Linked DNA regions of Homo sapiens: all the other regions are linked to region 2. Evidence: fine-mapped expression QTL. A gene starts in region 2. Each other region holds a variant in brackets. All regions are shown on one strand. Distances are from middle to middle.

What was found. PIP is the estimated chance that this variant, and not a neighbour inherited with it, causes the effect.
Region 1: its variant is fine-mapped to the expression of SNTG2 in whole blood (TOPMed, PIP above 0.99).
Region 3: its variant is fine-mapped to the expression of SNTG2 in esophagus muscle (GTEx, PIP 0.99).
Region 4: its variant is fine-mapped to the expression of SNTG2 in esophagus mucosa (GTEx, PIP 0.98).

The regions. Positions count from the first base shown.
Region 1 is chr2:1,163,609-1,171,713 of GRCh38, forward strand. It overlaps SNTG2 (syntrophin gamma 2), which reads left to right. Exons shown (of 17, transcript NM_018968.4): 7 at 1,940-2,027. Among named protein-coding and RNA genes, the nearest start is that of SNTG2-AS1, 220 kb to the left of the region's middle. The variant C/T (reference allele first, on the strand shown) is at 3,222.
Region 2 is chr2:945,997-954,101 of GRCh38, forward strand. SNTG2 (syntrophin gamma 2) reads left to right here and starts at 4,853. Exons shown (of 17, transcript NM_018968.4): 1 at 4,853-5,072. The coding sequence starts at 5,001. It overlaps SNTG2-AS1 (SNTG2 antisense RNA 1), which reads right to left and starts at 5,396. Exons shown (of 3, transcript NR_136151.1): 1 at 5,289-5,396; 2 at 3,915-4,390; 3 at 3,638-3,805. RefSeq lists a silencer at 4,762-4,891.
Region 3 is chr2:1,054,161-1,062,265 of GRCh38, forward strand. The region is part of intron 1 of SNTG2 (syntrophin gamma 2); the gene reads left to right. Among named protein-coding and RNA genes, the nearest start is that of SNTG2-AS1, 110 kb to the left of the region's middle. The variant T/C (reference allele first, on the strand shown) is at 3,799.
Region 4 is chr2:1,091,883-1,099,987 of GRCh38, forward strand. It overlaps SNTG2 (syntrophin gamma 2), which reads left to right. Exons shown (of 17, transcript NM_018968.4): 3 at 6,314-6,370; 4 at 6,471-6,528. Among named protein-coding and RNA genes, the nearest start is that of SNTG2-AS1, 140 kb to the left of the region's middle. The variant G/A (reference allele first, on the strand shown) is at 3,853.

The sequences.
Region 1 (8,105 bases), 220 kb after region 2:
ATGGAAGTGGATGAGGAGGAGAGGGAGAAGAAAGGATGTTGAAAATGCTCAGTGGCATTACGGGAGCATTTCTGCAGATGTGTTTCCAGTCTGGAGTTTTTAGTGGGATTTCATGAGGTAAAAGGGATGAGGCTGTCCTATGAGGTCAAGATCTATGTGAAGCACCGACATATTTAAGGTTGTCCACAGGCATGGCCGGGGTGGGGTGGCTCAGAGGGCCAGGAGGGAGCACCAGTGGTGGAGGTGGACCAGCCATGCCAGATAGAAATGTCCTCAGGTGAAATAGGAAGGCATTTATGTTGGATCTCAGGCCATGGGAACTTTCAAACTTTCTAAATCCAGTCTTCAAAACCCATTCAAGCTACATCAGGTGTCTTAGGGAGCTGTGCAGAACTGTAATCCTCCAGGTAGGCAATGACGGGCATGGAAAGTGACTGAAGAAATGAGGAGGAAAGATCAGAGGGAGCGATGAAGTGGGGCAGGAACCTACCCAAACTGTGGGTAGGCTTTATGTAGAGGAGAGAGCAAGGTGGGCTACGCCTGGCCTGGGAGGATGAAGTGAGGTAGGAACCTGCCGAAATTGTGGGCAGTCTCTGTGTAGAGGAGAGTGCGAGGTGGGATATGCCTGGCCTAGGAGGATGAAGTGAGGTAGGAACCTGCCCAAACTGTGGGCAGTCTCTGTGTAGACGAGAGGGCGGGGTGGGATATGCCTGGCCTAGGAGGATGAAGTGAGGTAGGAACCTGCCCAAACTGTGGGCAGTCTCTGTGTAGAGGAGAGGGCGAGGTGGGATATGCCTGGCCTAGGAGTATGAAGTGAGGTAGGAACCTGCCCAAACTGTGGGCAGTCTCTGTGTAGACGAGAGGGCGGGGTGGGATATGCCTGGCCTAGGAGGATGAAGTGAGGTAGGAACCTGCCCAAACTGTGGGCAGTCTCTGTGTAGAGGAGAGGGCGAGGTGGGATATGCCTGGCCTAGGAGGATGAAGTGAGATAGGAACCTGCCCAAACTGTGGGCAGTCTCTGTGTAGAGGAGAGGGCGAGGTGGGATACACCTGCCCTAGGAGGATGAAGTAAGGCAGGAACCTGCTCAAATTTTGGACAGTCTCCATGTAGAGGGGAGGGTGAGATGGGGATATACCTGGCCTAGGAGGATGAAGTGAGGTAGGAACTTGCCCAAACTGTTGGCAGGCTCTGTGTAGAGGAGAGGGCGGGTGGGCTATACCTGGCCTCGGAGGAGGAGGATACAGCAGAGGAGGGTTATGCATTATGGGAAGACACAGATGCAGGTGCAGTGAATTCTGACACACACAGCTTTGCAGCATCTAGACTTTTAGTGTCTCAATCAGATTTAAACAATGGCAAATACATTGTGCACAAAAAGCTGATTTTAGATGCTGTGTTGAAACGTAGGGGATTGTATGTGAGGTGACTGAAACAGTTTGTATAATTTGAAACTCCAGCACAGAGCTAAGTTCCATCCTTTTGAAGTGATAGCCACTAATTTCCTGAGAACTAAAGCATCATTTAAATATTTAAATTAGTATTTGTGGTTTGTTTTGCCACAGTTAATCCATGTTTTGCCAGTGACTGAACACAGGCTGTTTGTAGTAACAAACTGATTTCTCCGAGGGTATTATTTTCTGGTAGATTGCATTCATAGGGATGCAGAGAGCATCCCTGTGATGTGTTGTGGATGATACGGGCAGACCCCTGCTCACTCATGCACTTGTTTACGCAGATAGAGTGTGGGGGGTAGGTGGTCTCGGAGGTGATAACCACTCTTCTTTACTCCAGCTGAAGCCCACAAAGTTTTCCGTGTTTCAGAGGTAACTATGAACTTTGAATTCTTGGGAAACAGGAGAGGTAGAGAGATTTTATTTTTTAATTCTGTGTCTGGTTCTTTTGTGGTGGTAAAAGTAGCTATTTTTGTCATATTGACAGGTGCATCTGCTGAGAAATGCTGGCGATGAAGTTACCATCACCGTTGAGTATCTCAGGGAAGCGCCGGCATTTCTGAAGCTCCCGTTAGGTAAGTGGGAAGAGGAGAAATGCCAGGGTGCTGGAGAAATTCCTTTCTTGCCACATTATTTATCCAAATGCTACCACATGGACTGGGATATTAATCATTTGCTGAGTGTACATTCAGAGAGAAGAAAAGTATAGGCAGGCACCGTGGCATCATGTAGTCCCATGACGTTGTATGTTTTAACACATCCACGGGCTTTTTTGAAGGAAGTGTTATCAGACCGTGCTTCTCGACTGTGCTTCTCGTCACTTAACTACATGCTCGTTCCTTCATGCAAACTCACCATGATTGTATTTATCTATATGTTAACGTAGAAGCAAAGTTTACACGTAAAATACCTATGTTGATCTGAGAAATTTTCAGTGCAAAAAATGAAAATAATGGTACATTTATGCTATGAAGTCCCTGACATATTTTGGCACAAAGCTTGTAATCCTCTATTATACTTGAATTGTGACCCAATATGAAAGTGATGAACCCTAAATCTAGAAAAATGTTTTAGTGAAGATAGTTGTTGTAACTTTTACTAATGTTATTCAGCTGTCATGGCTTTATAAAGGTTGGAGTCACCACCGTTCCTTTGATTTAGCAGAGGGCATCACTGCCCTCTCTTTGTGGGTAATCGGGAAAGGCCTCGAAGGCAAGGCCCAGGCTCCCCTGAAGTCAACATCTGCTGGTGGCTCAAACCCCAGGGCATCCGATGTGGAATGAGGACCTCCCGCTGAGCCGACAGTCGGGTTCCTTCTCATGGGGGCTGGTGGGCTGTCCTTCCTGTCACTCTCTCATGGGAAGGAACAGCTTCCCTCCCTGGGGGTTCATATTGACTGTTTTACTTTCTCTCTCTCTTCCATTGATGTCCCTATTGTCAATGCCTTCCTTCTCTCCTGCCCCGAGTGGCCCGGCTGTAGCTCTCAGGCACATCAGTAGTTGAGTTCTGATCATGCATTGGGTTTTTCACTGATACAGGAGGGGGGCAGGGAAGTGCTGGGAGGAGAAGGGCGGGTCCCTGGCGAGGGCTGCACCCCCAGGCCTGTGCCCATGGACCTAAGTGAGGACAGGCACTCCTGTTCTTGCACCCAAATGTTGCGTTTTCCAGTACCACCCTGGCCTACCACGCCCCCATCCTATGCCTATAACAACCCCAAGACCCTAGTGGGCAGAGACACAAGTGGCCGGATGTGGAGAAGAGCAGAGGAG[C/T]GGAAGAGTATGCTGACAGGCACCAGCAGACACTGGCAGGCTATCGACTGGCAGAATGATGTGGAGTTTGGCTGGGGTGGTTGGACGAGACTCCAGGAGAAAACCACCTTGCCACTCCATGCCCCTTCTGGCTCTCCATCCATCTTCTGAGAGCTACCAACACTCCATAAAACCTTGTGCCAACCCTCCAAGCTCACGTGGGATCTGATTCTTCTGGTATGCTAAGGCAAGAACCCCGGGATACAGAAAGCCTTCTGTCCTTGCGATAAGGCAGAGGGTCTAATTGAGCTGATTAACATAGGCCACCCACAGACAGCAGAACTGAAGCCTACAAGCCACCCACGGATGGCAGAACTGAAACCTACAGGCCGCCCACAGATGGCGGAACTGAAGCCTACAAGCCACCCACAGACGACAGAACTGAAACCAACAAGCCGCCCACAGACGGCAGAACTGAAGCCTAGAAGCCACCCACAGACGGCAGAACTGAAGCCTATAGGCCGCCCACAGACGGCAGAACTGAAGCCTACAGGCCGCCCACGGATGGCAGAACTGAAACCTACAGGCCGCCCACAGACGGCAGAACTGAAGCCTAGAAGCCGCCCACAGACGTCAGAACTGAAGCCTACAAGCCGCCCACAGACGGCAGAACTGAAGCCTAGAAGCCGCCCACAGACGGCAGAACTGAAACCTACAGGCCGCCCACAGACGGCAGAACTGAAACCTACAGGCCGCCCACAGACGGCAGAACTGAAGCCTAGAAGCCGCCCACAGACGGCAGAACTGAAGCCTACAAGCCGCCCACAGACGGCAGAACTGAAGCCTAGAAGCCGCCCACAGACGGCAGAACTGAAGCCTAGAAGCCGCCCACAGACGGCAGAACTGAAGCCTAGAAGCCGCCCACAGACGGCAGAACTGAAGCCTAGAAGCCGCCCACAGACGGCAGAACTGAAGCCTACAGGCCGCCCACAGACGGCAGAACTGAAGCCTACAGGCCGCCCACAGACGACAGAACTGAAGCCTACAGGCCGCCCACAGACGGCAGAACTGAAACCTACAGGCCGCCCACAGACGGCAGAACTGAAGCCTAGAAGCCGCCCACAGACGGCAGAACTGAAGCCTACAAGCCGCCCACAGACGGCAGAACTGAAGCCTACAGGCCGCCCACAGACGGCAGAACTGAAGCCTAGAAGCCGCCCACAGACGGCAGAACTGAAACCTACAGGCCGCCCACAGACGGCAGAACTGAAACCTACAGGCCGCCCACAGACGGCAGTACTGAAGCCTACAGGCCGCCCACAGACGGCAGAACTGAAACCTACAAGCCGCCCACAGATGGCAGAACTGAAGCCTAGAAGCTGCCCACAGACGGCAGAACTGAAGCCTACAGGCCGCCCACAGACGGCAGAACTGAAGCCTACAGGCCGCCCACAGACGGCAGAACTGAAGCCTAGAAGCCGCCCACAGACGGCAGAACTGAAGCCTACAGGCCGCCCACAGACGGCAGAACTAACAGAGCGCCCTGGAACACACTCCCACTAGGGCTTCAGGAGCTGGAAACATCCACCCCTAGATGCTGCCAGGGGTCAGAGCCCCAAAGCCGGCCCATCTCTATGGCACCCCCGCCAGAGGTTTGAGTAGTGGGGCACCGAAGAAGCGAGCCACTCCCCCATCACAAGCCCTGCAAGGGGAACAAGTGAACTTTTCCTGTTTCAGCATTTGATCAAAAGCATCATTAGACTCATAGCATGACTTCTGCTTTCATCTTCCTGAGCAACCAGGAACAAATCCATTTCAGCAACTCCATTTTTCCCATCGATCACAGCAGGATAACTATGCTATTCACAATCTTAGGAAAATCGATCTTCCTGCCATTGTAGCAAACCTGGATCAGTAAGATTCACTGCATGCCTTGCCATCCTCAGAGACCACTCCCTCTGCTAGAAGGAGCCACGGGAGCATGAATGAAGACCTAGAGGGTTCTTGAGGAAAAAGAGTAAGGGGTGCTGAGGGGCTGTGCATGAGAAAGGCGAATATTCCCAGGGCCGTAGAGGCAGAACATGTTAGCAATGGGGCAAAGGTTTAAGGGAGCGAAATGTCACACGCGGCACAGTGGTGCACCCCTGGGGTTTTGAGAAACGTTGCTGTGAGTTGGGAAGGGGGTGGACTTGAGGGCTGCACAGAAGTTCTTGGAGCCAGCAGGGAGACTCAGGTGTCAGACGCACATCAGGAGGCCCAGCAGTGAGCTCGGATGGGGGAGGAGGACTCACTTGTGAGGGGGCAGCGTGAGTGTCTGCAGATTCTGCAGCAGCTGTGACCATACAGGCTCACGAAGGAAGAAACTAAGACTTTTCATAGATTTTTGCCAGAAAGAAAAGAAGAGAAGATAGTGGCTTGGACAGGAGGAGGTGGCATTGATAAAGGAGGAGACAGACAGAAAGCAGGGGGTGCTTTCGGATGTTGCTAAGTGGGGGTGGGAGGCAGAGGACACTCACCCTGGGGCCGTTCCTGACTTCTCTCTCAGGCAAGGTGACTTCACAGGCCGAGTGAGATGGGTGCTGCGTCTAAGCCAGCTTCCCTGGGTGCCTTTGAAGGAGCAGAATTTAAGCAACAGCAGCAGCAACACTGCAACACCAGATGGCAGAGGAAGTGCCCCAGGTGGAGGTTTTCACCGTGAGCCCCTGCCTAGAGCCCCATAGCACTGAGCCTGTGTTTCCCTCTGAGGATGGGCAGCTCTTGCAATTCTAGTGCCTGAGCCTGTGGGGCCGGAGGCTGTCTCTGTTGAGATTCACATCCTGACTTCTGTCCGTGGGCTCCACTAAAACCTGCAGGCTCCGGGGTCCATTGCCAGTCACATAGTGACTTCAATGAGCGTTGCTGCCGGCATCCTGAGCGGGGCTGTGCTGACTCTGATGGCTCTGCCTGGACAGGCCCAGCTACACGGACCACCCCACACGTCCTCGGGCACATGCAGGAAAGGGCAGCCTGGGGTGCAGATCACAGAGGCCAGGGGTGCTGAGTCCCCATTAATTCAATAAGTGTCTATTCTCCTTTTATTTCATTCTTTACAGTGAAAAATGTTAAAATCTTAGTATCCATAACAATTTAAGCAAGACAGCCATAATCTCTCTATAAATTCAGGCGAAACGTCCTCTGCTGAATTCACACCGTGAAGGTAAAATTGCTGTGCCTGAGCAGACTTCACTTTCTGACTGCATGAAGCAGAAATCCACCGAGCAGCTCCAGTGAGTGGGGAAAGAGAGTATCACGGCAGATCTGTGCGGAAAATGTCCAGTTTCCACATTTTAAAACGTTTATCAAAGAGAAAATAAACAACCGTTTGAGACTGAGTCAAAGTAGGGTTTTATTTTTCACAAGTCAGGCTCTTGGTCTTTTTATAAAGATACAATTCATGCAACAGAAAATTCACCGTTTTAAAGTAACACTTCAGCAGTTTTAAATATTTCACTACGTTGTAGAGGCATTGCTACTGTCTAATTCCAAAACATTTCCCTCATCCCAAAAATAAACCCTGTGCCAGTTAGTCAGCCCGGACTCTCCCCACCCCAGCCCTCGGCAGCCGGGAATTTCCTTCCTGTCTCTTTGTGGGTAATCAGGAAGGGCCTTGAAGGCCAGGCCCAGGCTCCCCTGAAGTCAACATCTGCTGGTGGCTCAAACCCCGTGGCATCCGACCTGGAATGAGGATCTCCGTCTGCGCCGGACGTTTTCTGTAATGGAATCCCGCACAAAGATGCCTTTGTGTCTGGCATCTTCCCCCAGTGTAGTTTCAGAGTCCGCCCCCAATGTCGCGGGCATCGGTGCTGCATTCTCTTAGCTGAACAGCATCCGTCCTAGGGAATATATCTGTGTATACGGACCCATGTACATACCCTTTGTATGGGTTTTGTTTATCCATTCATCAGCTGATGGGCATTTGTCTTGCTTCTGTTTGGGGGATATTGTGAATTATACCACCATGAGCATCCGTGAATGCGTTTTTCTTGGGAGATGTTTTCCTTCCCACCGAGTGGATGCCGACTACTGGAATTGCTGGGTCCTCTGGTGACTCTAGGCTCAACTTTTTGAGTGGCTGCCAAATTATTTTCCACAGCAGCCGCACCATTTTACATTCCAACCAGCATTGCCTGAGGGTAATCTAAGCAGTTTTGATAGGTTAGGGTTAATTTTTTTTAAGATTAGGTGTTTTAATAAACATTGATCATATACTACATGTTTTCTAATATGATTGTTTATTTTTGACACCTAATAAAAATAAACTAAGTCTATTTTTCTCATTAAGAATTCTTGATATTGGGTTTTAAAAAATAATGGACTTTTATTTGTGATAGAAGAAAGATATAACTATTCACATTTCTGTTCTGGGATATGGATGACAAGATACCTATTCATCAGAAATAAATTTATAGAAATTTAGAGTGGAAGCGTGACTGTCAAATGTAAATTTATTGACTATTTACCTGTTAGCTCATTCAGTCAATGGTGGCTTGGATCTGCTGCCATTAGTCATGTGTCTCCTTTGTCTATAGCATGAACTTTGGGATTTTGGAAGACTGCAGTCATTAAAAATATTTTGATTTTCCTCTCCAATTACTGATAAGGTGATTACGGGTATAAAATAACAGGCATTGGGAAAGAATTTCAAATAGATAACAGTGAAATGTGCTTCTGAACGCTAAAGGGCAGATTCAGGTGCTGTCTCAACAACCCTGTGAAACGCTCTGGGTGCTGTGTGGAGCAGTGGCTGGTCCACAGCAGAGTCTTCACCAGACAGTAAACAGTGGTCAATGAAAAAGAAAAGTTCTTCATCTAGTAAAATTGACAACTACCCTTTAAAAGTTAAGCAATTCTTATTTCCCCCAGAGT
Region 2 (8,105 bases):
CCAATGTGGTTGCCTTTTATTTCTTTCTTTTGCCTAAGTGCTAGGCTAGGACTTCCACTACCGGTACAGAATAGAAGTGATGAATATACTCTGTGCAGGCGTGAGAGTGCTTTTGATTTTTTTAGGAAACATTTGTTAAGTACTTAATGGAAATGGCACATTATTTCTGCAAATTACTCTGAACAGGTTTCATGGAAAGTAATCTGCATATAAATAGAGAGAAGCTGAGTATTACCTGGGACTTGAGTGAAAGATCAAGGGCACAGCAGCCCCAGCTATGTGCGGTTTCACTTTCTGTGGTCCCAGGTGCCTGTGGTCAACTGCAGTCTGAAAATATTAAATAAAAATTTCCTGAAATAAACAGTTCATAAGAGTGAAGTTGTGCCCTGAGAAGCATGGCAAATCCTCACACCGACGCCTTTGTGCCTCTCAGGATGTAAGTTGCCCTCTCAGTTCATAAGAGTGAAGTTGTGCCCTGTTCTGAGAAGCATGGCGAATCCTCACGCCTTCTCTGTCCCATGAATTCACTGTGTGCACCACACATCCTGACACTTAGTAGCTGTCTGGGTTATAAATTGACTGTCCAGGTAGCACAGTGCTTCTGTTCAAGTCTTGCTTAATTTATTCAGTATTGGCCCCAAACACAAGACTAGGGCAAAGAGAAGCCATAAAGTGCTTCCTTAAGTGAAAAAGTGAAAGTACTCACTTTAATAAGGAAAGGAAAAAAATGTATGATGAAATTGCTAAGATTTCCAGTGTGGTAAGAATGAAACTTCTAGGGGCAGAAAAACTAGTTACAGAATGGTAACCAAGTGTGAAACAGGAAGGTAATAGGTCTTCCTTGCAGAAATAAGACTATGCCTGGAGGGGGAATAGGTTCAGTTAGCAAATCAAGCAATATAAAGGATGTTCCCACAAGGCTGTCAGTCCAGAAAGTATTTTAAGTTAATTCGAAAATGAAACCCAGCTGCGCATGGTGGCTCACGCCTGTAATCCCAGCACTTTGGGAGGCTGAGGCAGGCGGATCACCTGAGGTCTGGAATTTGAGACCAGCCTGGCCAACATGATGAAACCCTATCTCTACTAAAAATACAAAAAAATCAGCCTGGCGTGGTAGTGGGCGCCTGTAATCACAGCTAATCAGAAGGCTGAGGCAGGAGAATTGTTTCAACCAGCGAGGTAGAGCTTGCAGTGAGCCGAGATCGCGCCACTGCACTCCAGCCTAGGCGACAAGAGTGAGACTCTATCTCAAAATAAATAAATAAAATAAAAAATAAAAATAAAAATAAAAATAAAAATAAAAAAGAAATCATGCTAGTTTTGCTATCACATTTCAAACTGCAAACGTTACGGCTGCAGTGAGTGATAAGTGCCTATTTAAGACGGAAAAGACGCTGAACTTGTAGGTAGAAGACATGAGCGGAAAGGTGTTCCCACCGAGGGCACGTCAGCGCAGAAAGCACAATCCCATGGGAAGACTTCAGCAGTCAGTCCCCCAAAGTGAGTGACACTGAGCCATTCATGGCAAGTGAGGCATAGCTACACTGATTTAGGAGTGGGCTTGTCACGAAACCAAAAACCAAAAACCAAAAAACTGGAGAGGCTGTGTTTGCCAGTGAAGAAGCTGCTGCCATATTTCCGGCAGAGTTGAAGTTGATTAAAGGGAAAGGATGCCATCCAAAGCAAGTCTTCAATTGCAGTGAGACCAGGCTCCTCTGGAAGAAGATACCCAACAGAACCTACGTTCTTGAAAGGGCAAAGAAGGCCCCAGGGCATAAAACACTGAAGGGCTGATTTACCCTGTGCCGTGTGCAATGCTGTAGGACGTGTGGCCAAGCCAGGTGTGCTGCACACACAGAGGAACACTTATGCTCAAAAAACAAACGTTACCTGCTTGTGTTCAGGCAACATAACCAGAAAGCATGAGTGGTAACCACCATGTTTATGGAAGGGCTCCACCAGTACTTCCTCCCAAAGCCTTGGAAGGGGGAAGGTTGGAATATAAAGTCTCATTAGTAACAGACAATGTACCTGGCCATTCTGAATATGTTGACTATAAAAATGACAAGGCCAAGGTTGTATTATTATTAAGACCGGGTCTCACTCTGTCGCCCAAGCTGGAGCGCAGTGGCATGATCTCGGCTCAATGCAACCTCCGCCTCCAGGGTTCAAGGGATTCTCCAGCCTCAGCATCCCTAGTAGCTGGGACCACAGGTGCATGCCACCATGCCTGGCTAATTTTTGTATTTTTTTGTAGAGACGCGGTTTTACCATGTTGCCCAGGCTGGTCTCAAACACCTGAGCTCAAAGCAATCTACCTGCCTTGGCCTCCCGAATTGCTGGGATTACAGGTGTGAAGCACTGTGCCCGGCCTCAAGGTTGTATTTTTACCTTGAAATACAACCTCATTGCTCCTGCCTTTTGACCAGGGCATCTTCCAGTTTGTCTAGGCCACATACATCAGTTTGGTCAGCAATTGATGCATACATATATATGCATATATATATATATATATATATGCATGCAATTGATACATATATATATGCATGCAATTGATACATATATATACACACATACATAGTTCAGTACTATCCACGGTATCAGGCAGCCACTGGGGGTCTTGGAACATACCCATGAGGATGAGGGGTTACTGGAGTTTTTTGTACTACATTTAGAAAGTTTCTGTAAATTCAGAATTATTTCAAAGTTAAAAGTTAATAAAGAGACACTAACTGCAACTGGTTTTAGACACATCTCAGAATCAAAGCTATACTCATCACAAAAACCAGAAAGTTGAATTTTGGTAACCTCATGGGGGACATTCCCTCGCAGAGTTTCAGGATAGTCAGGGTTTTACTTTTTATTGTTATTGTTATTGCAGTAGAACCCTAGTATTTAAAATAAGCAAAATAACCCTTACGTGCAGTCCTGACACAGATGCATAAAAGCAGATAGGCAGTTAAAACTTGAATTAATTAGCCTTTCAAAAGCAGCCCCAGAGCGCCTACGACGTCCTGGAATCACAAAATTTTATTATAGAAAGGATTCCAGAGATTGTTAGCCAAAACTACATTATTTTACAAATGAATTAACAATTACCTTTGGTCTGAAAAACAAAAATATATGTGTCTATTCATTTAACGATAAAATTTTAACAAAAACTTGTCTCTCAAAGTCAACATTTATGCATGCAACACGCTGTTTTTCCTTCTTCAGGCCCTGGAATAGAATGTCCCTTTGCAAGGTAATGAGACAATATCTTTGTGCTATTTGTAGACATTTAATTTCTCAGAGATTATATGCACGCTCTTTTAAAAATGCAATTTAAAGGCAAACAATAATCTCTTGTACTTTTTCTTATTCTAGGTTTTGCTACAAATAAAAAGTAATACAATATTTTTTACCAATTCACCCAAGAAGCATATTTTGTAACAGCCACTGTGCCACGTATAAAAAGACCTGGTTTTTGCTATTCAAGAGCTTGTCCTCTGGTTAAACTGAGTGCTAAGAAGTGCTGGCAGACTGCCGTGAAGGTGAAACAGGAATACAGAGAATAGAGAAATGGGGAAGGGCGTCTGTGTTCGAAACCCAGGTCTGCTCAGGGGTCAAGCAAGTCGGAGTCAGAAAAAGTAAAGTGTTTAACATCGAGTTTTCAATATTTATTTGTTTACAATGCGTCACATTCTGCTCCTAGATAGGGTTAACCTCTGAAGACCTCAGATTTCGCTGCTTTTCCTTGCCGTGGAGAGGGAATAAAACGGGCATCGTGGCCTCCGCGATGGGCGCTCGTGCCTGGGTCGAAGGACTGGGGGGCGGAGGATTTGGAAAGGGAGAAAAATACGGGCTGGCTTCTTTTTAAAAAATGTGGGTAGCCTTGCCTGCCCCCGCCGCACTGGAATTTATCCTAAACTTACTTTCATTTACATTAAAACAAGACGATTTGAGTCTACCAAACCCAATACTGCATCTGTGAGGCTCCTTTTGGCACAAACCTGAATGAACAGCGGGAAACGCCGTCTCCCCTGGCGTCTGAGATCTGGGGTCCCCTCCCCACCTGGTCTCCTCGCTCCCGCCCCAGCCCCGTGCGCCCCAGGAGGGCACCGCCGAGCGCCGGGTCCCCGCAGGGTTCGGGAGACTCCGCGGACCGGAGGAGGGATAGGACCCCCGAGCTTTGGGGGCGGGAAGGGAGGGTGGAAGGAGGAGGGGAGCGGGGTTGGGGAAAGTTGGAGCTTCGGTATCTTTTCTCCGGGCCAGGCCGTCCTCGGGGCCCTGCGCTGCGTCTCCAAGTGCTGGGAAGACTCCGCGGGGAAAGGTCTGAGGACGCGGCCGGCTGGCACAGGTGTGGCGGCTTCAGAGGGCCGGGGAGAACCCATGGCTTCGAGGCTGTGGACTAGAAATGTCCCTGATTAGAAGCTGAGAACCTTTGGCCAGGGAGGTGGGGCGGCGGGGAGGGGTCGTCAAGCCGGTCCAGAGCGCGCCCACCTGCGCCACAAGGGAGAAGAGGTGCCCCCCGCCCCCCTCCGCCCACCGCCGCCACGATGCGCCGCGGACCTCGGCGACCCAGCCCGGGTAGAAGCGCGCGCTCCCCTCCTCCAGCCTCGTGCGCCGGCCCCTGCCCCGCCAGCCCCGCTATGGTCCCCCATCCACCCCCGCGGGAGCGCCCCTGTCCCCCCATCCTGCACTTCCCCCAGAGTCGCGCGCCAGTTTCCCGCCCCGTGGAAGCGCCCCTCTCCCGACTTCGGCTGATCCCCGCTCGCCGCCCTCCCCGCGGGTGCGCGCCCGGCCCCTCCCTCGCCCGGGGCGGGTCTGCGTGGGCGGTGCTCCGGGTCGGCGGGCGGAGCTCCGGTTCCCCAGCCCTGCGCCCCGGTGGAGCCCGAGCCGGAGCCGGCAGAGGGGCGCGGGCGCGGACGCGGCGCCTGGCGGGGCCCTGGGAGGCTCGGACGGGGTCCTGGCGTTGAGCTCGGCCGGCCCGGAGCGCGGACCCAGCCGCAGGGGCGGCGATGGGCACCGAGGGACCCCCGCCCCCGGCCGCCTCCCGCGGACGCCAGGGCTGCCTGCTGGTACCTGCGCGGGTGAGTGCGGCCCCTCAGCGCCCCTTCACCTCCGGCCCCCCTTCCCTCTCCTTCGCGCCCTTCTCCCCCCGCCCCTCCTCCCTCCACGCCCCCTCGCTCCCCGCGACCCCTTCCCTGTCTCCGGGGACGGCTGGCCGGAGGGTGGGCGCCGGAGCCCCGGGACGCAGTGGGCACCCGCCCCCTGGCCGCTCTGCTCCCTCCAGCCCAGTGTCTTACTGGAAACTTGCAGGCTTTGCTCCTCCAGCGTCTTCCAAGGTTTGGTTTTGAGGCGCCCGGGCTTCCCTTTACTGCGTGGGAAGTAGTGCTTTCCAGAATTTGGGATTTGAGATTGGCCCGGCATTGCTTCCCAGGAGCGGCTCTTTCGGGCCCAGGCGGTGGCTCGGACCGGAGCGTCCCCCCTGCAGCCTTCGGGCGCCCAGGCCAGGTCTGAGTTGGCCAGTTTGAGCCCAGCCAGGTGCATGGCGCGGCCTCGGCAGGTGCTGGGGGCTCTAGGCCATTCGGGGAACCGCTGGGACGCCAACTGGGTAATACGGATTTCTTTTTTGAAGTCTATTCTGGTTCCCACCCTAAATAACTCCCTCTTCACCTTCTTATTTTTAAATAACTAAACTATTGATTGACAGAAAACAGAAATGTTGGCCCAAAGAAAAACGAAAAGTTCTTGGAAACCTTCAAGTTGCCACCCACAGCACAGCCTCGAGTTGTGAAAACAGTTTAAGGGAGCACGTGGCCACCCCAGCCCTAGGAGGCTGCCGAGAAGCGCGGCTGTTAATGAAAATGCATTGACAACCACTCCTTTAGGATTCCTTCCCCAGGAGCTCCCAGTCCCAGGAGCGACCAGGAATACAGTTAGCCCTCCCTTATAGGACAGTGGAGAGACGGTTCAGAAGGCCACGGGTTGAGGGCTGCTACAAATTCCTATCGTCATAATAATGATTCTAAACTAGGACTGTGGTCGTCGCTACTGTGATGTTAAAAAGATTTCTATGTAGAGACAGGTGCATCTTCATTCAAGTAGCACCTTTCTGGGCTTTTACTACAAAATATGAAAATTAAATTTCATGTAAAATGTGGGTGTTCGTTTCTTGAAGTACTTTGTAATATGAATAGCTATCCCACTGTTGCCCATGGTAATCAAACCCGAGAAAATATGCGGGGATTACCTGGAAATAAACCGCAGTAAAAACTGCAGGCGCTGTGGAATCACAGGCTTTCCGTCTGGTCACTGCCTTCAGCTTTATAATGATGCCCTCCCACGGTTAGGGATTGTGCATTTTTCTCCAGACATTCGAGCAAAGCAATTCTTGCTTTTAATCATTGTAATTATAGCGGAAGCGTTGAAGTGGATTCATCATACTTCATGATTGACCCACTTGATGAGTTATTGGCAATAACGTCAACAAATAAAGCAACTGCGCGTATTCTAGTAAATGCTCTCCTTTGCGCTCAGTATTAATTAAGGTGCTAAATTTGATGTTTTCCAGTCAAGAGTGGCCTCTGCTCACCTGTTTGCTACAAGATGTGATTGGCGCTTTCTTTCTAATAAGGACCTTGATTATTTGAAACAGCCTGTCTGAATTGTATTGAAAGAAACTTTTTTTTTAGCGTTGGAGGCCAAGTATTACAATAAGATGGAGCATTTTAAGAGCAAGACTCCTAACTTTGCAGTCATAAGTAATTAGGTATGTGCTAAGCCTACCTTAGACACCAGTGCATGGTCATGTTAGCTCAGATTCTTATGTATTTAAAACGAATCTGTTAAGTATTGGTGTTGGCAGGTTTGTCTTGAAAACATGAATGTTCTTAGTATACAATGTCATCCTTACTTAATGGCAGAATTATTTTCTTACCATAACTGCACAATATTATTCAACTTGTGTAATTATTTAATCATTTCAGTTAAGAGAACTTGGTGCTTTTAACTAGAAAAAGATGAAAGTCTTTTCTAAATCTTATATTTCTAGTTATATTTTTTCTATCTGAAGTCAAAACTATACACATTCTTTATCATGACTGCTTGTTTGAATCATGGAATTTGGCCACGTTTGAAGGTCTCCTGTTCGGTAACAGACCTGTTTTGTTTCCCCTTTCAAGTGCCTGTTCCCGATGTTTTTTTCTAAGTTAAGTGAGTTCATGGAGCTCTGTCTCTGACCATACCTGGATTTGAGGGGTAAAATCCCACTGGCAGACAACCTCAGTACAATGTGCGAAGTGTGTCTTGCTTGTAGCTTCAAAGACTACTATTGGTTGATGTTTACAGCACATTTGCTGCTTTTAAATGACAACACTTCTTCAGTCTGGGGCGCTGGAAGAATTATTGGCATGAGCCGGGAACATGCCCATTTATGTGATGAGCTTGCCCACTGAAGGGGGAAAGCACGTTAGGTCATTTTAAAGGTGCATGTGGGGTAAGGGCACCACCTAATCATCTGTTTACAGATGTGAATTGCTGCATGAGATGAATGAAGCATCTGAGCTCCTAAGAAGGTTCCCCATTCCTTCTATGCTTTGGTTATGTTTCTCATCCTTGCTGACTCATCTTTAATTTCAACTGTAGAATTTCTATTGACGTCTATGACATCATAAGCAAAATCCATGCATTACAAAGCAGGCAGTTACCTGACTTTACCAGGAGACATGGAGACATGTTCCCCAGTAAATATTTGAATGAGGTCCAATTAAGAAAAGTGTGCCTTGTTTTTGTTTTTGTTTTTTTCCAACATGGGATGTTAAAATTGCCTTGTTTTCTGAATGGTGTATGTGGAGCAACAGCTTCTTGTCTCTGGATATCTTTATGGATGATGACTGTAGACAAGGCATTTAAGCTTCAGTTTTAATTTAGATCTGCTTCTCAAGATACCCCATGAGGCTCTGAGTGAGTTGGCAGAGGGGCTGGCATTGCAGTTCTCGGTGACAGAGGGTGTGTTTGCATCGCAGGCCTCCTATTTACTAAATGGGTATATTCAGGATAGACTTACTAAGCAGTGTGATTTTCTGGCTTTCCTGTTAGCTCATGTAGCATGTGACAGCAGG
Region 3 (8,105 bases), 110 kb after region 2:
TGAACCTTTGGTTGTTTCCCGTGGTGCGGCTCGGGGGTGTTCTGCCACCTTGTCAGGTGGTGGAAATTGGCCCTTTCTCCTGCATCCCTAAGCGTCAGACCTCAGCCGTTCCCACCCAAGAGAGGCGGCCCACACCTGGGCTGTGGCTGGAGCATCTTCACGGCACCAGGAGTTCACTCTTCTTCGTGCCAAGGAATTGGTTAATTCTTCTAGGATCTAGCATTTTTAATTATCTAACTCTAATGAGGGGTTTACGTAGAGGGCTTCGGGGATTTTCAGTATGGCTCTCTATTTGACTGAGTTTGAAGGATTCCTGAAAGGAAATCCCAAGCTCCTACTGTGGTTTTGTCACTCTTCCTAGCAGGTTTAGGATGCAGTCCTACATGGCTAGAGATGTTAGAGAAGGTCTCAGTAATATCCCTGTGAACCCCACAGAGCCGCCTTGGTGATTCTGGGACCCCCTGGAGGTGACACATTCCTGAGACACCCCAGGGTACACAGCAATAGCATAATTAAGCCCCATGCTAATGAAGTCTTTTCCCCAGACCTTGGATCAGAATATCACTTGTTAATATTATCTGAAGTTAATGTTGATGTATTTTTGGATTTTCAAAGAGGTACATTTTCAAATGAAAAATCTAAATTGGGAAAATGAAGAAAGTAAAACAGAATAATGTAATTGTAATTAGGGTCTACTATTAAGCATTTGAAATACATGAGATGAAAATTAGCCATTTTAGAAGTTAAAAATATTGCCAGGGTGATGGCTTTTTTTGTTTTGTTTTTGTTTTTGTTTTTTTTTCCCTATTGATTCCTTTGGTCTTTATTTCATTCAGAAAACAATTGCCTCTCACCTCCTCTATCCAGCCTGCGTCAGGTACTGCTGTGTGAGTCTATAAATGCTGTTACCTCCTCTGTGCAGCCCACGTCAGGTACTGCTGTGTGTTGCTATAAATGCTGTTAACTCTGCATTCACATTGTAGACGTGGCCCTGACTGCAGGGAGCCAAGAGAGAAGTGGCTTCATGTCATGGGCAGCGAAACAGGGGCTGTGTGAGAGGAGTGGGAATGTGAGCTTGCCCCGGCCCAGGCCATCTGCCTGACTGTGCAGTTCATGGCTTGGGGCCGCTCTGCTCGGGGCTTCTTTCTGTAAGTTTTTCATTTTGTGTAGGTGACTTTTTCCAGTGCTGTTGCCTAGAGTGGGTACCGTTTTCTGATGAGCCCACACAGAAAGAATGCATTTCCTCTCACTGGAGGCTCACGACCTGCCTTGTGTCTGATGACCCACACAGAAAGAATGCATTTCCACCCACTGTGGAGGCTCACAACCTGCCTTGTGTGGGTCAGGATTTTTCATGGACGTCACTAGATCAGTGTGCTGAATGCCCATCGAGACAAAAATACTAATTTTGAGTCAGTGTGATGCCAGAAATGTTTTTATCAAGTAGCAGGTACAACTATTTATCAGTTTTAATATGAAAATGTTAGTCATTCATAGAGATCAAACCATGTTGCAGAAATTCAGATTTGGAAGAAACCCGGAACAGTAATTGATCTTATCCATTCTCCTAGGGTTATCATGAAGGATTTAACAGTGTGAACATTTCCATTTTCTAAGGTGACCGTGCCTTTATTTTGATGGCTCTGAATTGTATTTTCCATTCAGTTGCAGCACCAGCCCTCCCTTGATGTGCAGAATGAGCAGGTGTCTTTAGGAGTGAGGCTGGGGCACGACTGAATGCAAATTAGCCCTTGCCCAGACAGAAGACAGTCTCATCTCACCAGCGGTATTTCCTGGAGGGTCTGATCTGTCCTGGACATGCGGTGGGTCGCGGGGACTGCAGCTTCATCTCTCAGACGGCTCCTTGTCCCCACTGTTTCAGAGTGGACACAGGGAGAAGGGGTGAGGCAGCTGGGACCCAGGCGGCTCCTCTGGCTCCCATCTTGGTGGGAAGCTGGTCCACACCACCAAGAGCACGGGGAGGACTCCCTGCGGATGGGCTCCAGCTTCATTCTGAAGGAAGGAGTTGAATAAGTTAAGGAAAGTGGATGAGAGGGAGAGTGCATGGGGGAGGGAGGGAGAGGCCGCACTGTGCTGTGGGGAGGGAGGGAGGGAGAGGCCGCGCCGTGCTGTGGGGAGGGAGGGAGGGAGAGGCCGCGCCGTGCTGTGGGGAGGGAGGGAGAGGGCGGCGCCCCGCTGTGGGGAGGGAGGGAGAGGGCGGCGCCCCGCTGTGGGGAGGGAGGGAGGGAGAGCGCAGCGCCACGCTGTGCTGTGGGGAGGGAGGGAGAGCGTCGCGCTGTGCTGTGGGGAGGGAGGGAGGGAGAGCGCAGCGCCACGCTGTGGGGAGGGAGGGAGGGAGAGCACGGCGCCCCGCTGTGGGGAGGGAGGGAGGGAGAGCGCAGCGCCACGCTGTGGGGAGGGAGGGAGGGAGAGCACGGCGCCCCGCTGTGGGGAGGGAGGGAGGGAGAGCGCAGCGCCACGCTGTGGGGAGGGAGGGAGAGCGTCGCGCTGTGCTGTGGGGCGGGAGGGAGAGGGCGGCGCCACGCTGTGGGGAGGGAGGGAGGGAGAGCACGGCGCCCTGCTGTGGGGAGGGAGGGAGGGAGAGCGCAGCGCCACGCTGTGGGGAGGGAGGGAGAGCGTCGCGCTGTGCTGTGGGGCGGGAGGGAGAGGGCGGCGCCACGCTGTGGGGAGGGAGAGAGGGAGAGCACGGCGCCCCGCTGTGCTGTGGGGAGGGAGGGAGAGCGTCGCGCTGTGCTGTGGGGAGGGAGGGAGGGAGAGCGCGGCGCCCCGCTGTGGGGAGGGAGGGAGGGAGAGCGCGGGGCCACCCCGTGGGGAGGGAGGAGAGGGCGGCGCAGCGCTGTGCTGCGGGGAACGATGCATGCCGCTTCCTCCAGGACCTGTGAGTGCAGGGTTGGACGGGGCTTTCTGAGCTTGGGAGCTGGGGCCAGGCCTGTCCTGCAAGCAGCTGGCCTATTTCTGCTAGAAGCTGTGAATTACAACTGTAATGTATTTATTCTAAGGACTAACATGGCACTATTCATAAAAGACTGTGTTAATATTTGCACTGTGCTTTCTGTAATTATACCTCATCAACTTCATTTTTATCTCTATTCTGGCTGTATTTCATATTCCTGATTCTCTTCTGTATGCCTGAAAGGAGAGTTGGTGTATTAGTCAGGGTTCTCCAGAGGGACAGAATTAATAGGATAGACACATGCATGTAAAGGGGAGCATATTAAGTAGTAGTAACTCACACGTTCACAAGTGTGAACATAGTCCGTCTGCAAGCTGAGGAGCAAGGAAGCCAGTTCGAGTCCCAAAGCTGGAGTCCGATGTGCGAGGGCAGGAAGCATCCAGTGCGGGAGAAAGATGCTAAGCCATTCTAGCCTCTTTATGTTTTTCTGTCTACTTTATATTTTGGCTGCACTGGCCCTGATTAGATGGTGCCCACTGAAATTAAGGGTGGGTCTGTTTTTCCCAGTCCACTGACTCAAATGTTAGTCTCCTTTGGCAACACCCTCACAGACACACCCAGGATCAGTACTTTGCATCCTTCAGTCCAATCAAGTTGACACTCACTATTAACCATCACAAGTGGCAAAATATAAATGCCTCTAAATGTGCACAGGATCTTTCTATATTTAAACAATTAGTATAAAGTTGCATTTCAAAAAAATCTTCCAGCTGGACAACATGGTGAGACCCCATCTCTACAAAAGATTTAAAAAAAATTAGGTGGCATGGTGGCGCACACCTGTAGTCCCAGCTACTCAGGAGAATTGTTTAAGCCCCAGGGGT[T/C]GAGGCTGCAGTGAGCTGAGATGGCGCCACTGCACTCCAGCTTGGGTGACAGAGGGAGACACTATCTCAAAAAGACAAAAAATAAAAAGCTTTAAAAAATTATATTTGAATTAATATAAATAACTTATATTTGTATCTGCATTCTTTTCTGCTCTTATCTTCCTTGTTCATCAGTTGTTGCTGACTAAGAGATATGATTGTGTGTCAAAAATTAGTATTTTTCTACCAACACGTAAATTTAGAGTACAGTTTTTTGAAAAAAAAAGATAATGAATGGAGATGTATGTCTTCTCAATGAGGGTAGTGTCTCTGTCTTGTCTCTGACCTTTGTGTCCACAGCATGTGGTAAAAGTACAGGCAGAGTAGGCATTGGATTTTTTTTTAAAAAAGCAAACAACACACCAGTAGTGTTAAATGAATAAAGGACACTGGAAATTATGTGACATTGTTTCTTTGAAATTCTCCCTGTTTTCATCTTACATAATGTTTGTTTTAGTGGGTTTATTGGCAGTATTTTAATTTGCTCTGTATTGGATTATGGACAAATAGATTGCTTTCCATATAATTCCACAATACCTGTTACTGCATAGATGCAAAAATCCTAGTGTCTCCTCAGCTGCTGCTGTCTGCTTTTGTCTGATTAAAGTTTGGTTGAGCAGAAGGTGAACCCTGGTTGCTATTTCCAGTGTCCCCCACATTGGGGACCTGCATGGGAGTAGCATCATCCTTGGCTAGAGGGTGGAGTTTTCATCAGAAGTGACCAGCCTGTCTTTGTAGAGGCTCATGGTTCATCTCAAGCACCATCAAAAACATCTGGTTGTACCTAACTAATGGCACCTGTTTGTGCCACACAAGCCTGTGGCCCCTAATGAAAGTCAGATGAACTGAGCTTCCCTGTGCCAGAGCCCTCCTTGAAGGCTCTCATTGCTGTCACTGGTCCAGTGCCCTCTCTGAGATGGGCTGCTGCACAACTGTCTCCCCAGGAGGGAGAGCAGGATGGCAGCCATGGGACCACCCCTGGGCTCCGTCTTCAAATGTTGCCATTTGTCTTCTAGCTGGGCTCACTTTTGGGCAGCATTTCCTTCCTTGTCCCAGTTGCTGCTTCAGTAGAAAAACAGGAAAGCAAATACATCTTTCACCTTCGTCTTTGAACTGCATTGCCCACTGTCTTGCAGTGCCCTTTGCTTAGCTTTGCCATCTGTGCAGTTTCATTTACGAGACTGAGGAAAGTGTGTTCCTGGCAATGGACTCCTGGCACCTTCTGCCATCTCTTAGAGCTGGAGTGAATATTCTACAAACCTGTTTTTAGATTTGATCTTGAGAAGGAATGTAGGAGTTTCCTGGGAAAGCCAAATATCACAGGTCCTTCTCCTCCTGGACTGAGTTTTCAGCTGCAAAAGGGCAAAAAAAAAAAAATAATAATAATCAGTCAAGATATCTGTGTAAACATTTGGAAGATGATGAAGCTTCTACAATGTGAAGTTTACTAGAAGGATTCCACAGGTTTTATAAATACAAGTGTGTTCTGAGATTCTAATGGAAACTTGGAGTCACAATTGGATTTGAACATTTTTTGGAACTTTAATCTTTTGGATACGTAATTTGTAATCTTTACTATTTCATCTAAATACGTTTTTTTATTTTATAAATTTCTCTTTTGTGGAATTTTGAAGTATAAGGAAAACCTTGACAATGGAAATATAAAACTCCCTCAACCCTCATAACTCAGAGGGCATAACATGAATAATCTTAGACAAAAGTTCTTAAAATTTAATCTTTACTTAGAGACCATTTTAAAAAACAATCTAGAATACATTAAAGCTTAAAGATCCAAAACAAACTGAGACATATCTGAAAAAGTACTGGGAAGGTAGATTTTTCCATTTAATTACTACAACATACCATAAATCTATATAAACTAAGACAGAGTTATATTGGATCAGGGGTACAAAAGTTCAGTAGAATCAAATATAGAGCTCAGAAATAGGAGATATATAAGAAAAGTGGCATGGCAGATCACTGTGGAAATAAAATATTTTATATAAAGAGATGGAAAGAATGGTTAGCCACATGAAGTAGGATTACATTTTATCCCTACCTTACATCATATCAAAAAAATAATACAAACTGGAATGTACTCTTACCTGCAGGCCTTAGTGTAGGAAAGATGTTTAACACCAAGACTAAAAGACTTTAGGGATAAATGAAAGGTTTGATAAATGTAATTACACTAAAATAAAACATTTAAATTAAAGGAAGTAAAAAGTTACAAACTGAAAATTACACAGAGGAAACCAAAGGTTCACTTTCAAGAAATGAAATAACGATACCAGTGTGAACTCAGTTGTTTAATATTGATACCTATCTAATGGATATGTAGGTATTAATACACGTGTGTATGTGTGTACTGTGTGTGTGTTTGGAGAGAGAGAAGTGCATAGATACAGAGATAGAAGTGTCCTACCGTGGAGCACTGAGCAGTCCTGGAACCAAAGACACCCTCTAGCATGAGAACCCCAGCTCCCGGCTTTGGATTCTAAATGCCCTTCTTCTTCACAAAAGGGAACCAGGGCCCCTGAGGACAGTCTGGCTCCAGCATTGTGTTAAGTATAAGGTTCATCTGGAAGAGTGACAGGTGTAAAGGGCAGAAAGGTCAGCCTGAAAGTGTCCCATGGGCCAAGCCTCGAATAATTCAAATATGAACCTAAGAATGATACTAAATTATAACTATTTGAATGAAATAGTGAGTTTATACTGAAATAAGTGAATAAATAAATGGAAAAGAAGAAAAAGCTGTACTTGTAGTTAGATGCCAACTAACAAATTGAAAACAAATGCTGAAGTTATAATAAAAGCTATCAATGGATTTAAAACCAGTGGGTGAAGTCAGACCAGGAGCAGGATATGTTCACAGTCCCAATGGGTCCTCCCCTGAATTATGTATAAATTACAAAGGAAAAAATGGTAACATTAGGGTGGAGAAACTTGCGGGTCCACAACTTAACCAAGTGATCAAAATTAACACCACAAATGAGAAGGACAACAGTGATAGAAATGTAAACTTGTGACCCTCACACAATCACACAAACTTCAGCTGAGGAACATTCCACAAAATAACTGACCCATGTTTCCAAAAAAAAAGAGTCAAGATCAAGAAAGGTAAACAAAGGGTGAAAAGGTAAGAGACATGACAGCATAGAGCCGCGTGATCCTGGGTTGGACGCTGGAGTGGAAAGAATGACAAAAGGTGAACAGGTTAAAGAGATGTGACAGCACAAAGCCGTGTGATCCTGGGTTGGACGCTGGGGTGGAAAGAATGATGATAAACATTTTTAAGGCAATTAACAAAAATGGAATATGTGTATTAGATAATAGAAAGGTATTGTGAGATCATGATCAATGGGGTCACATTTCTGCACAACTTGTGTGCAGAAGTGCTGATTGCCTTTGTTCCAGACAACCTTTTCAAGGATGTTTGTGCAGCAAACAGCTTTCCGAGGTTGAGGAAGTGTTTTGCCTCTGATAAAAGGGCAGGCATGCTTATTGAACGTTGTTAAAGTTTCAAAGTTTCCTACGTTCAGAGTTTCTCTTCTGTAATGCAACCCACCAGGTATACAGCTGTCAATCATCTGGCCCTCTTGGTGCTTCATGGGATAGCAGGCTCAAGAAATCATAAAGGAAATTGTGGGTGCTCTGTGTCCTGCTCGTCTCTGAGTAACGAAGTCCTTTAGTCCTTTGTCTCCAAGCCAGGCATCTCATGTCTTCTGCCAGCATCCATGCGCTGTTGCTGGATAACGTGTTAGCTTGAACTTAGGTAAAATCTTAAAACCCTCACAGTTCTTGTCAGGTGTCAATGATCAGGTTTCTGAACTTCGTCTTTGGAATGGAGCAATATAAAAATATTCCATTATTCTTGGATATTACTTGGTAGTATTTAAGAGCAGAGATAAATAAAACAATTACTAAAGAAAAAATGAATATATACTATAAATCTATAACAAAGAAATATGTATCACAATAAAAATGCAAATTATACATCAGAAAAATGGAATTAGACATAAGAGGCCTTTCACAGAAGTAATATGTTAATAACAAACATGAGTGTAATAGAGGAGAGAAACACAAATGCTACAATGAAGGATTTTCACACCATTTGACTGAAAATAAAAAGCTTAATTAGAGGGAGTGTGCACTCACTGGAATTATATAAGTTGCTGGTAGGAATATAAATGGCTCTACAGTAACTCTGATGGCCACGTTTGTCATTGTCTCCTAAATTTGAACATGATCAAGCCCACTCTCAGCCG
Region 4 (8,105 bases), 150 kb after region 2:
GAGAAATAGTTTACTTACTTCAGATGGCAAATCCAGGCTCCCTCAGCCTATTTAGGAAATTTTATTTGAGTGAATTACTTTTAAAAAGTGGAGAGAGATTCAATGCCCCATTCTGAAAAATGCCTTATAGAGTGTTTGCTAAAGCAAAGGGAATGTCCAACTCTGTGGAAGAAACAATGCCTCCTGACTCAACAGCCCCCTCACATAGCCCCAGGGCGAAGTCTGTTAGCACATTGTTTTCTGAAATAAAACTCTATGAGTATTTTTGAAAGTATCTTTCATGTGTGGGTGTGAAATAGAATACTTCAGAATTGTTTTTCTATAAATTTCTAATTTTTAAAATTTAACTTTCAAGCCCTTCAATTAGAGAGAGAAAAAAAAACCCTTATTTTCTAGGTCCCTCGCCTTTCCCACATCTCCATTCTCTCCTTACAAGAGTGAGGCCAGGCCTGTGTGAGGAGTAAGACCTCCAGGGAAGGGAGGGGGATCGACGAGGACCTGGGGAGAGAGCAGGGGGATTAACACCCCAGGTCATCCTGTCCTCACCACAAGAAGGGTTTTGGGCTGAACAAACCTGGGGGCAGGGTCCTGGCTGGTGGCCATGGTACAGGCGCAGTGTTTTACCTGTAGAACTGATTGAAATCTTTCTGGAAACTGCAGTATTAAAATCTGAACATGAGTTTGCAGCCATAACAAATTTAAATTTAGTGTTAAGTCCACAGTTTAAATATCTGAAGTAGAATTGTGAGGCCCATTCATACATGTAATTCAGTAATAACTTGAAGAACAATGTTTTAGAAGACCAGAATAAGAAATATGATCTTATATACCCCCAAACCACTTTTTTGTTGATGAGAAATGTATAATTGATAAGTTATCTATGTCATAGAAAATAGCTCGTTCTTAAAATATGTGGTCAGAAGATAATGTGGAGATAGCTATGTTCTATTATTAATATAATGATGCTGCTACCAAGATGTGAACATTAATTAAATGTCATAACATAGTTTGGGATTAAATGATAAAATGCAGAATAATATTTTATGAAAGATTTTATCTGATATGTTTGTGAAAAGAAAAGCAGGATTGACTTTGAAAATAATTTATTGAACAATTACCTTAGATTGCAACCTCCATTCTGTAGAAGTTTTATGATACATTCGATTGTATTCTGAATTTGTTCCTTTGGTGAGTCCCTGGAGCCCCTGAGTATGGTAAGTGAGGAGGCCGTGATTATGGGGGAACGCATGGAATAGGGGAGTCAGGCCATAAATTAGATTCATAATGAGCCTCGGGGCAGCTCACGATCCGCACCTGCTTGTGGGTCCTTGACTTTAAGGGGTATGTACTGGGAGAGCATTGAGGCAGCGGACTGTTTTGGTTGCATTAGAAATGCCTTTTGATGACATTAGTTTGTCTAGATATCAGCTAACAGAGCACTATGGAAATGCTACCCAGAACCTTAAATTAAAGTGATCAGCTGTGGGTTGCCTCTGGGGTCATAAAATAATTAGGATGCAGGAGGCAGGATAACTTCAGCCAGGCTGCTGTGTGAAAAGTTCCAGTTAGAAGCTGCAGAAGTTTTCCTGTTTACTTTTTATCATCCAGTAAGTTTTATAAATCTTGGTTTGAAAAGTAAAGTTCCTAGATATGCTAATGTTAAAATGTTAGAGCCTTCATAATTATATAATGTTCATTTCTAAAAGTGTGAAAACACAAATTGGCTGAGCCTTTTCTCTCAACTTTGACACACTGAAGTCCTGGTGTTTGAATGAGGTGGTTTTAAAATAACGATTTTTCATGGATAAAACTAACCACCTTGGTATTTTTGTTAAACCTGATGGTCTGTAAGGTGCTTTCCACAGTGATCTTCCTTCACTCCTGTTGAGGCAGCTTGGGCTCCACCGTAATAAGGAACCACAGGTGGGCTGGCTTAGGCAGCAGGGACTCCCTTCTCACCGTTCTGGGAGGTGGAAGTCCAACACCAAGGTGCTGTGGGTTTGGTTACTGGCAAGGGCTGCCTTCCTGGCTTGCAGGCGAAGGCCTTATAGGTGTGTCCTCATATGGTAGAGTTACTGGCAAGGGCTGGCTTCCTGGACTGCAGGCGAAGGCCTTATAGGTGTGTCCTCATATGGTAGAGTTACTGGCAAGGGCCAGCTTCCTGGCTTGCAGGCGAAGGCCTTATAGGTGTGTCCTCATATGGTAGAGTTACTGGCAAAGGGCTGCCTTCCTGGCTTGCAGGCGAAGGCCTTATAGGTGTGTCCTCATATGGTAGAGTTACTGGCAAGGGCCAGCTTCCTGGCCTGCAGGCAAAGGCCTTATAGGTGTGTCCTCATATGGTAGAGTTACTGGCAAGGGCCAGCTTCCTGGCCTGCAGGCAAAGGCCTTATAGGTGTGTCCTCATATGGTAGAGTTACTGGCAAGGGCCGGCTTCCTGGACTGCAGGCGAAGGCCTTATAGGTGTGTCCTCATATGGTAGAGTTACTGGCAAGGGCTGGCTTCCTGGACTGCAGGCGAAGGCCTTGTAGGTGTGTCCTCATATGGTAGAGTTACTGGCAAGGGCCAGCTTCCTGGCCTGCAGGCAAAGGCCTTATAGGTGTGTCCTCATATGGTAGAGTTACTGGCAAGGGCTGGCTTCCTGGACTGCAGGCGAAGGCCTTATAGGTGTGTCCTCATATGGTAGAGTTACTGGCAAGGGCCGGCTTCCTGGACTGCAGGCGAAGGCCTTATAGGTGTGTCCTCATATGGTAGAGTTACTGGCAAGGGCTGGCTTCCTGGACTGCAGGCGAAGGCCTTATAGGTGTGTCCTCATATGGTAGAGTTACTGGCAAGGGCTGGCTTCCTGGACTGCAGGCGAAGGCCTTATAGGTGTGTCCTCATATGGTAGAGTTACTGGCAAGGGCCAGCTTACTGGCCTGCAGGCAAAGGCCTTATAGGTGTGTCCTCATGTGGTAGAGTTACTGGCAAGGGCTGGCTTCCTGGGCTGCAGGCGAAGGCCTTATAGGTGTGTCCTCATATGGTAGAGTTACTGGCAAGGGCTGGCTTCCTGGACTGCAGGCGAAGGCCTTATAGGTGTGTCCTCATATGGTAGAGTTACTGGCAAGGGCCAGCTTCCTGGCCTGCAGGCAAAGGCCTTATATGTGTGTCCTCACATGGTAGAGACAGCGAGGTGGGGGTGGGGAGAGAAAGAGCAAGAGAGAAAAAAGAGAAAAAAAAAGAGAGAGAGAGAGCGCTGTATCTGCTGTCTTTTCCTGTTCCAACCCTATCAGATAGGGCCCACCTGAATGACCTCATCTGACCTTAGTTACCTCCTACAGGCCCTACCTCCAATGCAGTCACACTGGAGGTCAGGACTTCAACACGGATTTTAGGGGGACACAGTCCCATTCCCAGCACTTCCTATTAGGGCTCACAGTACAGCTCTCACTTTCCAGATGCAGAAACTTGATTTTAGAGAGATTTAGAGACCTAAATACCTAAATGGCTAGTACAAATGTACACAGAAAGGAACATTTCAAGAGACTGCACAAAGCAGGTATGAAATAAATATTATTCTGGCTTAGCTAAAATCATAGAGAACAAGCCCTTCACATTCCAGTAAACATATATTTATGTTGGTTGTTAATGGTGTAATTTTTTTCTTACCTATCTTGTTAAGAATATTAGTCCAGATTTTACCACAGGTGATCAGTTTCTTGATATTTTCTTTGAAATATCAAGGATATTTTAGGGTATTTCAGGATATCTTCCTGACATGTATAAGTGAGTCAAATGACAGTTTTAAAATGTCATTCTTTGGCAGTCTATCAAGGCAGAAACTAACTTGTTTCTTCTCAAAATGTATTTTCTCTC[G/A]TCTTGTACTTGCTTGCATGAGTTTCAAATACTTACACTAACAGCTACAATTTTAAAATGTTATTGAGCATTTTCAGAAATTCCATACAGAGAGGCCTCCAGTTACTATGACGTAGATAATTCAATTTTCTCATCCTCCATAGCCTTAGAACTCAGAAGCGTAAGGCTGTTTGCTGTGGCACACAGAGGAGCAGCTGGCAGGTGGACGGACGCCTTTCTCCCCACTCCCTCAGTTGGCCATGAACACTACAGAATTTAGCGTCTGCTGAGGGAGGGAATGAACCCCCCCTTGGTTCTGCAGTCCACATTCATTGTGAGATGCATTCTGGCCTGCAAAGTCAACCGTCCATGTGTTGAGGAGGAAAACGGTATGCCTCCCACATGCAGGAGTAACTCCCTCTCCCTCCTCTATAGAGGATATCCTTGGAAACCCTCTGTCCACATAATGGGATTTATTTATTCAGCTTTATTGAGCTACAACTAATAAAAATTGTACATGCTTAAGGTGTACAGGGTATGTTCTCATATGCATATACATTGTGAAATGCACACTACAAACAAGCTAATACATACATCACCTCTTACAGTTACCTTTGTTTTTTGTGGTGAGGACATGTAAGGTTTATTCTCTTAGCAAATTTTAAGGAAATATGGTATTATTAACCATAGTCACCATGCTTTCCATTAGAGCCACAGAACTTGTTTACCTTACAGCTGAAATGTTGCACCCTTTGGCCTGCACCTCCGCCCCCCAACCCTGAACGCCCCTGGTAAACACGGTTCTACCCTCTGCTTCTGCGTTCAACATCCTTAGATTCCACATGCAGGAGACCGTGTGGTATTTGTCTTTCTGCGCCTGGCTTATTCGACTCGGCACAGTGTCCTCCAGGCTCATCCATGTTGCCACAGATGGCAGGATTTCCTTCTTTATGGCTGAAGGATGTTCCATTCGGTGTATCTACTGCATCTTCTTTATTCTCGCATCTACTGGTGGACACTTGGGTTGTATCCATATCTTGGCTGTTGTCAGTAATGCTTTGATGAGCAGGTTTAAGAGCCTGTTACTCTGTCCATTGGTGCAGTGTCACTGGGAAGCATCTGTGGCATTTCAGGTAAATACTGAGAATGTGGATGCAATGAGAGCCCGTGGTATGGATGTCCCAGGAGTGGCTCTGACTTTGCTGTTCACAGTATCTGGAATACAGTCTAACACCAAGAAAAAGCCAAAACGATCACTCTGTAGCAAAGCCCCCGAAATACGGCTCTTTTTCTGTGTATAAAATTATTTTTGTCAGTTAAAAATACTATATGTCCAAAAAGGATCGAAATGGTAAAATTTCCAATTAAAGTATTATTTGCTGTGTCCCCATATACACACTTTAACACAGGTATATTTGCTCTAATTTTTGGTTTCTTTCCTTTGAGTTTATGAAGTATTTCCCCCTAAGAAGGACATTCCTGGGGTATCTCAGGCTGCGGAAGCCCTCACAGCAGCCTCCCTGCATCTGCACCTGCACCGCTGGCCGGGGCGGGAGCTCCCAGGTCCCCCCTTCGGCGTGGGCTCTGCCACCCTTTTACTTCTTTGTCCTTGCTTTGCACAGCAGATTCCTTTCAGAGCCATTCAGCCTGAACATGCTCATGTTTCCTCTTAGAACTCAAAGAATGTCTGTCACTTCTGTTTTTCCTGTAGTGTATTTTTGAGGTAAAAGCACCCTTTGGCCACTGTCCGTCTACCCCAGGCTGCCTCTGTGCGCCCCCTCAGAGCAGCACCAGTCACTCATGTCTACCTGAAGTTGGCAACAGTCGCATTCATCAGATTAGACCACAGCAAAACATAGGTGCATGGCTTAATGCGCAAGAGATTTGGAGATTTTTTACCATTTCACTAGCCAGTTAAAGGCCTATTGTGCTTTTAGCTTTTTATCACAACCTACCCTTAAATATCCCAGACATCTGTGGTCAGAGGACGTGAAAAAATGGATCATTCATGAATTAATATTGGTTGAAGATTGTCCTAAACACGGCTGACTTCAGCAGAGACGTACAGTGAAGCGTGAGCCGGTCCTGGGGTTGGTGGGTAGAGAGCGGTTCTAAAACAGGACTGAGTGCTCCGCCCCACTTCCCTTTCACCACCTGGGAGAAGGTGGACCCCTCGTTTCTTCATGGAGCTCCGTTCCTCACAAGCAGAATGCAGACGGGATGACAGTTCTGTGGGGATTCTTCCTGGATTTCAGACAATGCCTGGAATGGGGCCTATTCTTTATCACTGTCTTCGTTTTCATACGTGCAATACCACGGAGTAAAGATTTGAAATAGTGTCATTACTGTCATATTTAGCCAAAGTTGCTTTGGAAATATAATTTAACACGTATTTGGGTTTAAATGAAGAATTTCTTTTGAATTCACTTTCTGATAGTGCATTTTAACCTAAACTTGGTTTGTTTTCTAAAATGTTTTAAAGCGCAGAACTGTTACACTCCGCAGACAGCCAGTTGGCGGCTTGGGCCTGAGTATAAAGGTATGGAAATGGTTTTCTCTATTCCTGCTTTTTATTTTTGAAGAACTTTCCAGTGTGAATCATGATAACCACGTTTCTTTCTGATGGCTTTGTCTTTCAGGGAGGTTCTGAGCACAACGTCCCTGTCGTCATATCAAAAATATTCGAAGACCAAGCAGGTAAAAACAGCCAAAATGACCTGTGTATGCATCACAGCCATTTGTGAGATAACAAATTACTGAAAATGATAAAAATCAGCAGATATGTGTTTTGCTCGATTACCTAAACTTCCGTTTTATTTTTGTAGCTGTGTCTTGTTTCAAAGGATGCTTCTTATGCCCTGATCTGAGGCTGCCCTTTTTAACCTCTGCTGATCCCTCTGGCCCTTAAGAGAGACACTAATTCTCTGTTTGAGGTATCAGGTTATCCCCCCTCTAAAGATATTGATGATTCAGGGGTTTGAATGCTGATTTTAAGGTATTTTAAAAATCGAGGAGAATTACATATAGATGGAGAAGTCCATGGTGTTCGTTGAAGTATCTGATACACAAGTCTCTGAGCCTAAGAACGTAATGAGCCTGTTGCAGGACTAGCTGACCGCGCTCAGGTGGGGCTGAAACGCCGTCCGTTCTGCACTTGGCAGCTGGTGGTACTGCACTGACTACCACCTCCATCCCTGAAATGAAACACTGGCTATGGGAATAATCACAAGAATAACTGACATTCATAGGGAGAGATTACTCTGTGTAGAATCGAAAAGTGAGGGTGGGATTTCTGGCCACACATTCCACTATCGGGTAGACTGTTTCTCATACAATTCGATTTTGGACATAATGAACCCCCTGCGGTAAACTCCATGCATCTGTCTCCCTATCGGGAGGATTCTGCATCCTTGTGGCTGGCCTCCTCCCACCTGGTCCAGCAGCTCCTGGGTGTGCAGCCTCAGGCCACTCCTCCCCTGCTCTCCAGAGCAAGGGGCACCTGGACATGCGGTCCGTGTCGGGGGGTGGGGCGGTTAGCTTATGTCCTTGAGGCCTGCAGGGGAACAGGAAGCAAGACAGAGTGGGCAAGCGGGTGGCCTTATGACCTCATGTGCCTCACACCGGAAAGCACAGCCACTGCAGGGGACCCCTGGCTGTGTCCCTGGAGGGGACATGCTTCTCTCCACGCTCCACCAGAAATGTGGAGGTTCTGGGTGAAAAGCACAGAATAAGCTCATACTTTTTCTCTAAACATTCTTACTCATTTCACCCAATTTTACCCAAACCATAAGCCCAGTATGCAGGTAGAGTGCCCTGAAGAGGCTGGAGGTCCCAGGCTGGGGAAGCCTTAACCATGAGCCCTCTGAAGGTGGGTGCAGTGAGGGCAGTGATGGTCAGGTCCTCTGAAGGTGGGTGCAGTGAGGGCAGCGATGGTCAGGTCATCTGAAGGTGGGTGTGGTGAGGGCAGTTGTGGTGAGGGCAGTCATGGTCAGGTCAGCCATGTGTGGTGCAGGAGACCATGTTTTGCTGCAGAGATTGCCCCAGTGGGATTTGGATTCCCCACAGCAGCTGTGAACACGTTCTCAGGGAAGAGAGGTTTCCACAGAATGCGTTGCCATGAAATTTGCATCCGGGTAAAGATTCTTTTTCGGCAGAAGGACATTTAAGAGTCAGGTCAGCAACACATTTTTCTCCTTTTTGAGCAAGCTTACAAACCTGCCGTTAAACTTGCAGCAGATGGGATTCCATTTAATCAGGAATTAGGGGCCAGCAAG